Homo sapiens: one gene and its partners. The protein of the gene in region 2 purifies or fractionates together with the protein of the main gene of each other region. This does not show direct contact. Each region holds a gene or a part of one and is shown on either strand. Other genes may lie near its edges.

Region 1 (3,500 bases), on a different chromosome or scaffold from region 2:
GAGGCAGGCAAATTACGAGATCAAGAGATCGAGACCATCCTGGCCAACATGGCGAAACCCCATCTCTATTAAAAATACAAAAATTAGCTGGTTGTGGTGGCATGTGCCTGCAGTCCCAGCTCCTCGGGAGGCTGAGGCAAGAGAACTGCTTGAACCCAGGAGGCGGAGGTTGCGGTGAGCCGAGGTCGCACCACCGCACTCCAGCCTGGCGACAGAGCAAGACTCCGTCTCAAAAAAAAAAAGAGAAGATGACAGAGTGGCTTTCTCCAAAACCTTGCCCAATACCTAATTTGACAGAGACATTCCTCTCGAAGTGTAGGACTTTCAGGTACTTCACATTTGGCTGCAGGTGAGGCAATGGGTAAAATGACTTACTTGAACTTGGCCGAGCCATTTTCAGGCAAATCTGGTTTCGTGTGGACGCTGGAGGCTTCAGGCCACAATATAGCTGGGAAATCAATCGACTTGGGACAATCTGGAGAGGTCGCATCAGGGTTTGTCTGTAGTTCTAATGCTTGAGGCGGGCTTTAGAAAAATCACAAAAACAAATAGTGTAGAAACAATCAGCAAATATTTTTATATATGGAAATATGTATAAATATTTATATTTTATATATTACAGAAACGCATCATGTATATTATATTATACCCACACGCACACATACACGAATGTCCTTTAAAAAATCTTTAGTAACAGATCATCCTCTGAACTGGCTGTTTTCCGTTTGTGTTCTCAAGTGCTCCTAGAGGTGCAGAGGTGCCTTGGAGCAGTGCTTCTCAAAGCGTGTTCCCTAGACCAGCAGCGTCGCCATCACCTGAAATCTTGTTAGAAATGCAGCCTCTGGTTCCACCTCAGAGCTGCTGAATCAGAAACTCTGGGGGTGGACCCCATCATCTATTTCCAGGTGATTCTAGTAACTACTCAAGTTTGAGGACCACTAAAATGCACAAGAAAGGGTTAAATATGAGAATTCATTTGAAAACTTGCTGCTTTTCAAAAGGTATGAAGCCAGGTGCAGTGGCTCACGCCTATAATCCCACCACTTTGGGAGGCCGAGATGGGTGGATCACCTGAGGTCAGGAGTTTGAGACCAGCCTGACCAACATGGTGAAACCCTGTCTCTACTAAATACAAAAAATTAGCTGGGAGTGGTGGTGCATGCCTGTAATCCCAGCTACTCAGGAAACTGAGGCAGGAGAACTACTTGAACCCCGGAGGCAGAGGTTGCAGTGAGCCGAGATTGTACCATTGCACTCCAGCGTGGGCAACAAGAGGAAAACTCCATCTCAAAAAAAAAAAAAAAAAAAAAAGAACAAAGAAGAAAAAAAAGAAGGTATGAAAACCACCACTAGTCTCTCAACTTGCGGTCAAAGTACAGTTTCTTTCTTTTATTTCAGACAGGGTCTCACTCTGTCACCCAGGCTGGAGTGCAGTGGCGTGATCACGGCCCACTACAGCCTTGACTTCCTGGGCTCCAGCGATCCTCCCACCCCATCCTCCCCAGTAGCTGGGACTACAGGCACGCGCCACCATGCCCGGCTAATTTTTGTATTTTTGGTAGAGACAGGGTTTCACCATGTTGGCCAGGCTGGTCTTGATCTCCTGAGCTCAAGCCATCCACCCACCTAGGCCTCCCGAAGTGCTGGGATTACAAGCATGAGCCACCATGCCCAGCCCAAAGTAGTTTCTGTGAGAATGTAATTTCTAACTGAGAACTAAATTCTGAAGGAAAGAAGTGTACTGTGACAATAGTATTAAGATAACATCGTGTCACAGAAACTCGTGGATCTTAAGGCACATTCAGTAAATCTTTGTCTATACCTGAGGAATTTTATAAAAAGAAAACAAACACAGAGAAAGACAACATTTGGAACAATGACACTGATTGTCCAACAAAACTGTGGGGGCAGAAAATATAACGGTGGTTGCCAGAAAGGGGAGGAGTGATTAAAAAGGGGCATGCGGGAATTTTTTTTTTTTTTTTTTTTGGTGGGAGGCAATGGTATTGTTATATATCTCGATTGTGGTAGTAGTTACATGACTGTATCTGTCAAAACTCATAAAACTCAATACTAACAAAGGGTTAATTTTATTAGACACATATTTTACTTAAAAATAATGAGTATAGAGCTTCAGTTTTACAAGATGAAATGAGTTCAGGGGATTAGCTACACAACAATGCGAATAGACTGAACTGTACCCTTAATAATGGTTAGAATGCTAAATTTTGTTACATGTGTTTTACCACAATTGTATTTTGTAAGAGAAAGGCAAGGGGATAAAAGAATATACCTTAACTTTCTTGCATTTGCTATAAAAACAAAAAAAGAATTCACAAGAAATTAGTAAAAAGAATTGAGTATAGGGTGGGAAACGCTATGTAAGGAGATTAGAGCTGAGCAAGGATTTTCCATATGTGTTTATATATTGTTTGGATTATCAATGCCTTCCAGTCCAAGGAACACACTTGTACTCGAGCAAGTTGCGAGAGATAGAACACGCCATGAAGAACTGCAGCATCTGTTAGGAACCTGGAATGGACTGATTAGAGGATTTGTGCTTGTGTTAGATCATGTTGGGGAGAGGTTCATGGAAGTGGGGCTTTGTTCTGGATTTGATGCTGTTAATGGATCTTATCTAAAAGGTGGAAGGAATGAAGAGAGGCTAGAGCTGTGAGTGGCCAAGCAGGAGTCCCTCATGTTAGCGGCATGGGAGGATGTTTGGTCATCTTTGTGGCTTCAACAATGTTCCTGTTTCGGTCCCAGTTCAGACGTGATTACTGAGTGGCCTTGTTCTTGTCCTGACCCATTGTGGTCACAGAGTGGCCCTGTCTGATATCGGTGCTCTGTGACGTGGTTTATGTTCAATAGAACACCAAGGCCTATCAGATAGTGCCAGGCTCAAGACTAGAAGCAAACCAAATGTCCATCAATTTATAAATGGGTAAACAAATTGTGGTTTATCCATACCATGAAGACTCTTCAGCAATAAGAACAAACTACTAATACCTTCAACAGCATGAATGAATCTTTAAAAGTGTTATCCAATAATAACTCTATAGTAGAAAAGCTGGCAGCTACCACCTTAACCAAGTGATCAAAGTTAACATCACCAGTAATAAGACATGGCGACTCCACCTACCTCCTCATATGATGCAATGAGAAGGGCAAAGCATCACTTGTGTGGCATTCATGACTGCAATTTAGTTATGAGAAAATGCCAAACTCAAGCTGAGGGGCGTTCTACACACTCTACAGCAAAACTGGCCAATACTCTTCAGAAAAGTATCAAAGTTTTGAAAGATAAGAACTGGAGAAACTGTCCCAGGTCCTAATGAGACATGACAAGTAAATGCTACGTGGGATCCTGGGCTGGATTCAAGACCTGAAAAGGGACATTAGTAGGACAAATGGCAAAATTTGAATGAAGCCTGTAAATTAGTTACTAGTACTGTATATGTAAATGTCTAGGTGTAGTACTTGTCCTGGTTTAGATCATT
Region 2 (3,927 bases):
GTTGGAAAGTGTTTCCCCCTTCTTCTATAGCCACCCAGCTTTGTCATGGTTGCCATTTAAATGGTATGTCTTTGTCCATTCTTTTACTTTCAACATAATTTGAATCTATCTTTGATTGAGATTTCCTCTACAATAACCAATAATATTTTTATGACCATGAATAAAACTGCATTTATCTTACTAGCTGCTTTTTTAAAAAATTGTAAACCTTTGTTTTCCCAATGATAATAACTTTTCATTTCTATACACTCTCTGGTTCTCTTGCTGGCAATAAACCTTGGTATTTTTGCTTAATTTTGTTAAACTTAAAATAAAATTTTGTCACTGTATATGTTGGGCCCATCTTTTTTTTTTTTTCTACTGGTCTGTGAAATCTGTCTAGGAACCACCAAATTACAGGATTTCCAAGACTAGGTTAGAGATATGTTGTACATAAAACATAGGTTGTATCTATGGAAACAAGTTTATTAAACTTATGAGTAATATTTAAACTAACAAAATTTTATCAGTATTTTTGCTTTAATTCAGATTTTTAAAAGACATCCTAAAACTAGGATGGAAACCATATCAAAATCACGACTGTACATTGTGAAAAACTGAAAACATCTAAATGTCCAATAATATAGATTGGTTAAATTACAGTGTATTTATATAATGGTTATCTATTTAAAATCATGCTTTATAGTAGTATTATACAGACATGGAAAAATGTTCAGCTACAGGTCAACTTGTCACGTTCGGTGACTACTACCTCCTTTAACCCTTTGGGTGTGTTGCAGCTTCCCAAGGTGGTTTACCGTACCTATTGGCTTTCTTTAATCCTACTTTTTTGGTAAATATTCCCTTCATTAAATGCTGTTCAGTCACCCCACTTTAGTGAATCATCTATTTCCGGCTAAGATCCTGAAAAAAGTTATTAACCATTAACACAGGTTAATGGTGAAATTAGACCATTACTCTGGTTGGTGGAATTATGATGAAATTACAGAGAAAACAACAAATGCCTGTTTTTTTTTTTTAAACAAGTAATACCATGATAGGTGCACTACACCTAATAATAGTGAGGGCTACCATTAATTAATTATTAGTGAGTTAGTTGTATATTGTGCTTTATAGATCACCTCCTTTAATCCTTTAAATAACTGTATAATAATTAACATCACCTCCAGTTAGACATGAGGAAACATTAAACATTTTTTATTGTCAATTAATATATTGTCATTGTTTTCTTTTATAGATCATTCCCGAGAAGTGTTGGAGCAATTAGTAGGCCCAAACAAACTAAAGCAAGTGACATGGACTGTTTATTGATGCTTTTTTGAAGATGATCAATGCTAGGAAAGCTTATCAAAACTACTTTCCCAGGAAACCATCTATAGAGATTTGCATTCTACTTAATGTTAACACTATTTTTAATTATTTTATTGTCTTAAGTTATAACTCTCAGAGAATTAGCTAAGTCTTGGTATATACATGGTTTGTGCTTTACTCTTAAACATCTTTAAAGTGCTATTATTCTATATCTGTTGGATGAGTCATTATTTTTGAAATGATAATCCTAGCATGAACTCTGATCTATGGTGTTGGATTCTGTTTCTTAAATAACTTTAAAATTAACTGTTTTCCCTTGAGATTTCCTTCTCCTATGTAGGTATTTGAGCTATTGTTCTAAGTTTACCTGTAAGTATAAACCTTGGGAGAATCTAAGTAAACATATTTCTAAAAGCATAGTTACCTTCCTATTTTCTGGCTCTTACCTTCTTGGAGTATTTAAATGCCCATTTGCCAAAAGCAGACCTGAACATCAAGCCTGTTAATTCTTCAAAGAATTTAGGTATTTGTTTCACCGAAATGAAGTGACTTATTAGCCATTCAGCGTATTAGTATTACAGAGGCTCTTGCCCAGCCACATCCATTCATTGATTTTTATGGCTACTCTTCCCAGTTACATTTTATGCATCTGTAAGCTTTCCTTCCTTAGCAAAATTGCATTCAAAAATGTGTAAAAATGAGTAAATACAGAATATCACTACAGAGACTTGTATCCTCAGGTTTATTGATTTCACATTGTGAAATAAACAGCAAAGGTCTTAGTTTTCAAGTGAAAACTTTTTGGTAATCACAAAATTACCTGACACATACCACGCTTAAACCAACCCCCAAATTTAGCATATTCATTTTGCCATGAGCCAGTCTTGAGATTTTCTTAAAAGATTTCTTATTTTGCCTCTGATGTAGTGAAAAACGGGGTAAGTATGCTAACTTTCTTGTATATGTTGGGGGGTACTTATTCAACTCCATTTCTTGTCCTTACAAGATTTATAAATGTGGTATGTTTATAGTGTGGATATATATGTTGCCACTGCAAAGGTGGTGCATATGTATATATGTGCAAAATGGGTAAGGCCTGTTCTAACTATGAAATTTTTCTAAAGACAAATTCAATAAAATTTAATACTGAATATTTAACCAAGTCAATCACATTTTCCCCTTTTTGCAGAAACTAGTTTCGACATCTAAATTGTGAGCTTCTTTGGGTCTATGAAGGATTTATCTTCCTAAAACAGTTTGCAGTTTGATATTTCTCCTTTTTTATGTTGCTAGCTGTATTAACTATTTCTCACCACTCTGTTTAAAATATCTGTACCCCATCCAGTACCCAGTATTCCCTATTACCCTTACTTCTTTTTCTCCTTACTACCTATCACCATCTGATGCCTGTTTTCATTTGTTCATTATGTCTCCCTACTCTAGAATACAAATTTCATAAGGACAAAGTATTTATCTTTTTTTTTCATTGCTGTATCCCCATATCCCCAGTGCCTAGAACAGTGCCTGGTATATAATAAGCACTCAAATATTCATTGAATAAGTAAATATGGAAAGAAATAAAGGAGGAAAGAAAGAAATACCCAGTAATACCCAGCCTGGCCAATGTAGCAAGACTCCATGTCTACAAAAAATACAAAATAAAAAAACTAGCCAGGCATCATGGTGGTGCATGCCTACAGTCCTAGCTACTAAGGAGGCTGAAGTGGGAGGATTACCTGAGCCTAGAAAGTCGAGGCTGCAGTGAGCACGGTCGCATTGCTGAACTCCAGCCTGGATGAGAGAGCAAGACCTGTCTAAAAACAAACAAAACAAAACACCCAACAACAACAACAAAAATTTCCAGTCTCTAGTCTGATTTATATTTTCTAATATAAAGAGATTGGAAGTCATCATTCCCATCCTCACAATAAGAAAAAAGCTCAATAAACTGAAAAGTCAACAACACTTAGATCCATTAGAGAATTAAGGTTAAAGAGAGAATGCCTCACAAATTAGAAACGCAAATACAAAGAACCATAGCTTACAGGGAGCAGAAGCCTGTTGCTGGAGCCAGTACCAATAGGAACATTTATGCTGTAATTCCTGAGTTGCTGGAGGCTCCATGTGGATGGACTTAAGAATCAAAAGCTCCAGCCTGGCACAGTGGCTCACACGTGTAATCCCAGCACTTGGGGAGGCTGAGGCAGGTGGATCACCTGAGGTCAGGAGTTCGAGACCAGCCTGGCCAACATGGCGAAGCCCTGTCTTTACTAAAAATACAAAAATTAGCTGGGCATGGTGGTGCATGCCTGTAATCCCAGCTGGGTTTGGTGGTGTATACCTGTAATCCCAGCTACTCAGGAGGCTGAGGCAGGAGAATCACTTTAACCCAGGAGGTGGAGGTTGCAGTGAGCCAAGATCACGCCATTGCACTCCAGCCTGGGCAATAAGAGTGAAACTCTGCCTCAAAAAAAAAAAAAAAAGAATCAAAAGCTCTAGGAATCTGTCCATAAACGTTATCTAACCAGGTGTGGCAACCCTGCAGTCACTCTGAACCTATTCTGCTTTTGGGAGCTGCCCAATTCACAGATTGTTCTTTGCTCAATTAAACTTTGT
Region 3 (3,500 bases), on a different chromosome or scaffold from region 2:
CCACCTCCCGGGTTCAAGCGATTGTCATGCCTCAGCCTCCTGAGTACCTGGAATTACAGGCGCATGCCACTGCACCTGACTAATTTCGTATTTTTAGTAGAGACAGAGTTTCACCACGTTGGCCAGGCTGGCCTCAAACTCCTGACCTCAAGTGATCCACCTGCCTCGGCCCGCCAAAGTGCTGGGATTACAGATGTGAGCCACAGCACTTGGCCCAAGTTATGTCTTGTATAGATATCCTACAAATGTTATCAGATTTAGGTACTTTCCTTTTTTCACATAAAATTTCCTTGCCTTACAAACACCTGGCTGAGCACATGATGGCTCACGCCTGGAATCCCAGCACTTTGGGAGGCCGAGGTGGGTGGATCACTTGAGGTCAGGAGTTCGAGACCAGCCTGGCCAACATGGTGCAACCCCGTCTCTACTAAAAATACAAAAATTAGCCGGGCGCGGTGGCACACATGCTGTAGTACCAGCTACTCGGGAGGCTGAGGCAGGAGAATCACAAAACAAAACAAAACAAACACCCCCCTTGCCAGGCTGGGCATTGTGGTTCACAACTATAATCCTGGCACTGTGGGAGGCTGAGGTGGGAGGATTGCTTGAGCCCAGGAGTTCAAGACCAGCCTGGGCAACATGGTGAAACCCCATCTGTACAAAAAATACAAAAATTAGCCGGGCATGGTGGCATGTGCCTGTAGTCCTACCTAACCAAAAAGTTGAAGTGGGAGGATCGCCTGAACCCAGGAGGCAGAGGTTACAGTGAGCCGAAAACACGCTACTGTACTCCAGGCTGGGTGACAGAGTAGGACCCTACCTTAAAAAAAAAAAAAAAAAAAAACCACACCCACCTTGCAGCATAGCACTATTGTAGCTAACATGATGAATCTGATTCTCCTATAGGCAAACAAGGAGAAAAAGCATCTTACCATGACGAGCACCACCCCCAAGGCCAGACAGCTATTAACACAATGAAGGGTATATTTCAGTATATGAAAGTTCTTTCAGTTCTGAACAATGTTCATTTCTTAGACTGGATACTCCCACTGCCACAGCAAAAAGCCTAAAACCCTGCTTTCTAAACAGAATTTTAACGAGAAGTGCAAAAACGGACTGAAGGATAAATTGTTGTGTTCTGTACATTGCCGCATTGTGTTTTCCAGAATACTGAAAAACCCCTAACTGAAAGAATGTTTGCACAATGATTAACAAGGCTTTGTCTGACAGGAGGAAATAGGAATGGGAGATGATCATTTATGTATCCACCGTAACTGGACACAGGGCACTCAGGTGGTTTGTTTTGCATATCCATCTTCCCCCTCAGGAACCCTGCCCAAGAACAAACAGCTCAGCTTTTTGTCCACCGCTGTAGTCCCAGCTGCTGGAACAAATACTGGGAAATGCTTCATTATATCAGTTTGGTACATCAGATTTAGGTACTTCCCTTTTTTCACATAAAACTTCCTTGACTTATAAACACCTAGCTGAGCATGGTGGCTCATGACTGTAATTCCAGCACTTTGGGAGGCCAAGGCGGGTGGATCACTTGAGGTCAGGAGTTCGAGACCAGCCTGGCCAACATGGTGAAACCCCATTTCCACTAAAAATACAAAAATTAGCCAGGTGTGGTGGCACACACGCTGTAGTACCAGCTACTCAGGAGGCTGAGGCAGGAGAATCTTATTACGGGATCGTCCCGATTTTCATATGAATGCTGTCATTTCTTCAGTCTTACACAAACACTGTCTACCATGCTATCATTCTTTGGTCCTCCCTACTTTTCTGCTCTCCTTCATTCCAAGCCTAAAAAGAGCTCTCCACTCACTGTTACCACTTCCTCACCTCTCAGCCTCTCTTAGTCCCACTCAGTAAGGTTTTGTTCCTATCACACCACCTCATCAAGGTCACCAACAACCTGCATGTTGCCAACACCAATGCACACACATATCTGAGGTCTCATCTTACTTGACGTCTCAGCAGCATGACACAGTTGATCCTTCTCTCCTTGAAACACTCTTCACTGGGCTTTTGGGACCGTGATTTTTTTCCTATTTCTCTGGTTTCTTCTCAGTCTCTATTTGTGAATTCTCCTTTGCTTCCTAACTGTGGATTCTTGCCATGCCCAGGGTTCAGATCTCTTCTCTACCTATAAACTCTCCCCAGAGATGCTTATCCAGTCCCATGGCTTTAAAGAACCATCCACTGATGACTCCTTCATTGCTCCTCCAGGGGCCAGCTACCCAATGGCCCCATTTTGAGTCCTCTCAAACTGAGTCTGTAGAAGACAGGATTCCCGACCCTCTCTAACTCACCTTCAATCTGCTCCTGCCCGAGTTCTCTATCCATAGGAGAGACTAGCCAGATGTTTACCAAATGCACTTCCTCTTCTGGACACCTGTTAGACTAAATTTCCCAGCCTCCTGTGCAGCAAGGTGTGGCCATGAGACTAAGTGTGAACCAATGAAATCTGAGGATCATTCGGGCTTCCCAGGCATTCACCTCCAAGCTTACCCCCACCAGCCAGCTTGATGCAGACAAACATGCCGACTGTGGGAAGTATTAAAGATGGCAGGAAGGCCAGGCGTGGTGGCTCACACCTGTAATCCTAATACTTTGGGAGGCCAAGGTGGAGGAATTGCCTGAGCTCAGGAGTTTGAGACCAGCCTGGGCAACACGGTAAAACCCAGTAGCTACTAAAATCCAAAAAATTAGATGGGCGTGGTGGTGTGCCCCTGTAATCCCAGCTACTGGGGAGGCTGAGGCAGGAGAATTGCTTGAACCTGGGAGGCAGAGGTTGCAGTGAGCCGAGATCACGCCATTGCACTCCAGCCTGGGTAACAGAGCAAGACTCTATCTCCAAAAAAAAAAAAAAAAAAAAAAAAGACGGCAGGAGACTGGGTCCCTGAACATTGCTTGGAGAACAGCTGCCCTGCCAATCAGGAACACCCAATGCAGCTTTACAAGAGTGAGAAACTTCTACGGTGTTAAGCCACTGAGAATGCTGGAGTTTATCTGTTACAGTACCAACATTACTATAATTAACACAACAGGTCAAAAAAAGGTACCACCGTTCATCCAGCCACTCAGGTACAACCCCCTTTTTTTTTTTTTCCCAGAGATGGGGTCTCGCTTTGCTGCCCAGGCTCAAGTGCAGTGGCATGATCATAGCTCACCGCTGCCTCAAATTTCTGGGCTCAAGGCATCCTCTCACCTCAGCCTCCTGAGTAGCTAGGACTACAGGTGTGCACCAGCACACTTAGCTAATTTTTAAATATTTGTGGAGATAAATAAGGTCTTGCCATCTGGCCTAGGCTGGTCTCAAACTCCTGGATTCAAGTGATCCTCCCACCTCAGCCTCCCAAAGTTCTGGGATTACAGGCATGAGCCACTGCACCAGGCCAGGACTCGTTTTTGTTTTGTTTTGTTTTGTTTTTGAGATGCAGTCTCGCTCCGTCACCCAGGCTGGAGTTCAGTGGCGTGATCTCAACTCACTGCAA
Region 4 (3,500 bases), on a different chromosome or scaffold from region 2:
CGGGGGCATGCTAGGGAGACCCCAGGGCCATGTGTGGCCTGAGATCATAGCTGGTCCACCAAGCCAGGCCAAAGGGCCAGGGCAGTCTGGGAGCCAGCCCTGTGACCACTCTGGGCCTCTCCCCAGGAGGTACAGCTAATACCAGGATCTCTCTTGGGGCCAGACACTGGAATCTCAGGTGAGGGAGGCCCCTTCTTCAGTTTAAACGCCACCTGCTCCCTGAGCCTCCCTCTTGCCTCCCCGCCCATCCATCTGTTCAACAAACATCCCCCGAGCACCTCAATGCTCAGGAACCAGAGTGCCTAGGACATAGCCCCTGTTCCCCAGAAAGCAAAGCGTCCAGCACGAGATGGCCAGGGAGAGGGGGAAGGAATGGAGACGGGGCTGGGAGCGCAGAGAAGGAGCTCCTTTGTCTTTGGGGGACCAGGGGAGGGCACAGGGGCAGACCTGAGAAAGGGGCACCTGACAGTGGGTTTCACTGAATGGGTGAGTCGAAGCTCACCAGGGCAGAAGAGCCTCCGCAGCAGGCTCTACAGGCAGGAGCCCCTCTCCAATGTACGCCGTGTTCTGGCTGCTCTCCCAATACGTGGCTGCATACACCCACCAAGACCCCGCCCCCAGGACCCCTGCCCTGTTGGCGCTGCTGCCAGCAGTTGGCAGGGGGCGGTTCCTGGGTGTGCGTTCCTGCTCCTCCACTACAACAGAAGCCCCCGGGTGGGAGGGAGCCATTTCCACTTTATTCCCTAATGTTCTTGGCCCTGAGCACTGTGCCCAACACATGGGGGTGCCGGGTTACTACCTGGGGAATGACAGACACCTTGTCACCGCACCTGACCTGCGGTTGGGGTACACCTTGCATTTCTGTCACTCCGCTGCCCTGAGGACGTCCCAGACCCTCGCTGCCAGTCCCCAGCAGGAGCTGTAGGGGCGTTACCTCGTGCAGCGGGTCTCTCCTCATGTTGCGCCCGGCCAGCGGCTCATCGTGGGGGAAGACGACGGAGTAGTTCTTGGCGTAGGACTCATGGCTTCGCTCTCGGATCCAGCGGGGGTGGTCCGTGAGCGAGTGATGGAAGCGCCTGCCGCAGACAGGGGGACGGGTCACTGCTTTGGGGATGGCCCGTCAGGGAAGGGCTAGCCTAGGACCCAGGGTAAGCCTGGACCCCGGTCCCCTGCACCAGAGTCCCCTTTGTGGCTCAGCATTGAGCGGGCCCCTGACTCTCCATTCGCCCCACCCTTGGGTGAACTCAGCTTTCTCCCCCAGAGCCACCCCACCCCAGTGGCCCTCAGTGAGTGGGCGTTGTGGACAGAGGGCCCAGCTGAGGCTCTCATCCCCCACAGGGACATGGGACTCCAGCCTCGCTCTCCACACATTGCTGTCTGCTGCCTAGGTTCCAGTGCTGGGGAGTCCTGGGGTGCCCCTACATGACTGGGGAGGGAGCGGCCCCTGGGAGGGATGGGCTCAGATCCCCAGAATGCTCTGGGGAGGGTCCATGTGAAGGGTCTTTGAAGTTTAGCCTGGTGATGCGTCAGAACACCAGTGTCCCCCTCCTCATCAAGGAACCCCCCTTTCCACCCGCCAGCAGGGGAGTGGGGGCAAGGGTGGCCGCCTGTCCCATCAGGCCTCCCCAAGTCTGTGATCCCAAAGCTGGGCCTCGTCTGTGGGTCAGACCAGGGACCCAAGAGGTACAGAGTCTCTGGGGGAAAATCCCAGCTGTGTCTGGGGAGCGGCTGCCCAATCCAGCGCCTGGGACCGGAGATGATGTGGCTGCAATAGTTTTGGGTTTGTTCCTTCGAGGCTGGGGACACAGTGTGCGGCCACGGCAGCCCCCGGTGGTGTCCAGCACGAACCCGGCGGGCCCCATGCTATTTCTCATGGAGCTACGGAGCTCTGTGGCTGCACCTGCGGCCTAGGCCTCTGCTGCCCCTGAGTGGGCAGAGCAATCAGTGCCCCGCGGCTTGTTCCCTGGTCTCCTCAGACCAGCCACCCGTCCCGAATCCGACAGTGCGGAACTGCTGGCTGGAGTGAGACCCGGGCCCAGCTGCATCAGGGCCCTGCAGCCGCCTCCCACGCACAAACCTCCCTGTCAGCCCCCGGCTTTCCCAGCACCCCGCCTCCCCCTCACGCTCCACCTGCTAGAACCTCACTCATCACTCAAGGCTGCCTCAGCAGCCACATCAGAGGCGTTTCTATCCTCAGTGACACCTGTCAGGGCTGATTCTTAGTCTGCACGTAATTCTAGCAAGCAGAATTTTCTGATCTGGATGGGTGGGGAGTAGAGGTGCAGACGTGAGGATTATTATTAATGATATTATCATTAACAGCTGCTGTCGCTTATGGCACCCAGCTCCAGTGCAGGCTCAGAGCTGAGTGCTGCTGTGGGAGGAAATCCCTCTCTCTTTGTCCCCAGAGCTGCCTTCTGCATGGGACCCAAGATTAACTCTTTCACGCAGGGGGAAACTGAGGCTCGGAAGGGTCTCACAAGTGTTCACAGTCACACGGCAAGGCCACGGCAAAGGCAGCCCACACCTGCGCCAGGCTATGCTGACCAGGAGCTGAAGGAGGGGGTGATGGAGCCAGTGAAGGTCTGGGAGGATTCTTGGGGGCAGCAGTGAGGTGCACGTCGGGTGGCAGGAGCAGCGAGTGACCTACAGAGTCCCAGCTGCCAATTCGGCCTGTGAGCAAGTGGGCAGAGGGACCAGGCCGGCCCAGACCACCCTTTTCACTTAAATAAAGAGCAACTCTTCCCTGGCTCACCTGGTCCCCAAGGAATTTCCCTGAAAAAACAGCCCAGCCCACACTCTGGCTCTGCCTCTGTTGGGTACTGGGCCAAGCGTCCACACGCATGAGCCTCGAGTGCGCTCCAAGAGGGTGGTACATTGTTCCCATTTTCCAGGTGGCGAAACTGAGGCTCAGAGAACAGGAGCGACTGACCAAGGGCCATGCAGCTGACAGATATGGGGCTGGAGAGACAGCCTCTTATCTGATTTCAAAAGGAACTCACGCGCAGGGCGGCTGCCATGGCCTGGAAGCCCCCTGGTGCCCGGTCAGCCCTGGGACCCTCACGCGCAGCCCGGAGCCCAGACAGGCCCCGCACCCAGGGACGGCTCAGGCTGCCTGGTCTCCCGGGACGCCCCCTCGCTGTGCGTGTCTCCCATGTGTATGATGAAGGACGACCCACGCGTGTTCTGGCTCTGGCCTGAGGGGAGCAACCAGGAGTCTCTGAGCAGGGGAGAGCTCCGTTCTGGCGCCGACGCTCTCTGTTCACTTTCTTTTCTGGGTCTTTCAACGACTTTCTCAGGCACCTCCTTCCTCTCCTCGCTCTGTCTCTCTCCTTCAGGGTCTGTGTCTTGTCTCAGTCCCCGGGCGCAGGCCCGAGGTGGCAGAACATTGCATTAGTGCTACAGCCCTTGGGGGCCGGTGGCTGGTCCTGCTGGTGGCGGCCGTCCACTCTGGCACACTGAAGGGGTTTGGAAGCCCCACGTCAGTGACGGCTGGGCTG

Evidence for each region.
Region 1: the proteins of ETFBKMT (region 2) and SIRT5 purify together in Homo sapiens (affinity purification with mass spectrometry; one large-scale study listed by BioGRID and IntAct). This does not show direct contact.
Region 3: the proteins of ETFBKMT (region 2) and PISD purify together in Homo sapiens (affinity purification with mass spectrometry; one large-scale study listed by BioGRID and IntAct). This does not show direct contact.
Region 4: the proteins of ETFBKMT (region 2) and SARDH purify together in Homo sapiens (affinity purification with mass spectrometry; one large-scale study listed by BioGRID and IntAct). This does not show direct contact.

Annotation. Positions count from the first base shown.
Region 1 is NC_000006.12:13,581,101-13,584,600, reverse strand, and holds part of SIRT5 (NAD-dependent protein deacylase sirtuin-5, mitochondrial), read right to left. Parts: intron 526-3,500; 5' UTR 491-525; coding exon 376-490; intron 1-375. UniProt on the Homo sapiens protein: NAD-dependent lysine demalonylase, desuccinylase and deglutarylase that specifically removes malonyl, succinyl and glutaryl groups on target proteins.
Region 2 is NC_000012.12:31,669,688-31,673,614, reverse strand, and holds the end of ETFBKMT (electron transfer flavoprotein beta subunit lysine methyltransferase), read right to left. Parts: 3' UTR 1,312-3,927; coding exon of another isoform or gene 1,238-1,311; 3' UTR 501-1,237; downstream 1-500. Other genes in the region: protein AMN1 homolog, read left to right, coding at 1,238-1,311. UniProt on the Homo sapiens protein: Protein-lysine methyltransferase that selectively trimethylates the flavoprotein ETFB in mitochondria. Thereby, may negatively regulate the function of ETFB in electron transfer from Acyl-CoA dehydrogenases to the main respiratory chain.
Region 3 is NC_000022.11:31,652,216-31,655,715, forward strand, and holds part of PISD (phosphatidylserine decarboxylase proenzyme, mitochondrial), read right to left. Parts: intron 1-3,500. UniProt on the Homo sapiens protein: Catalyzes the formation of phosphatidylethanolamine (PtdEtn) from phosphatidylserine (PtdSer). Plays a central role in phospholipid metabolism and in the interorganelle trafficking of phosphatidylserine.
Region 4 is NC_000009.12:133,707,353-133,710,852, forward strand, and holds part of SARDH (sarcosine dehydrogenase, mitochondrial precursor), read right to left. Parts: intron 1,077-3,500; coding exon 935-1,076; intron 1-934. UniProt on the Homo sapiens protein: Catalyzes the last step of the oxidative degradation of choline to glycine. Converts sarcosine into glycine.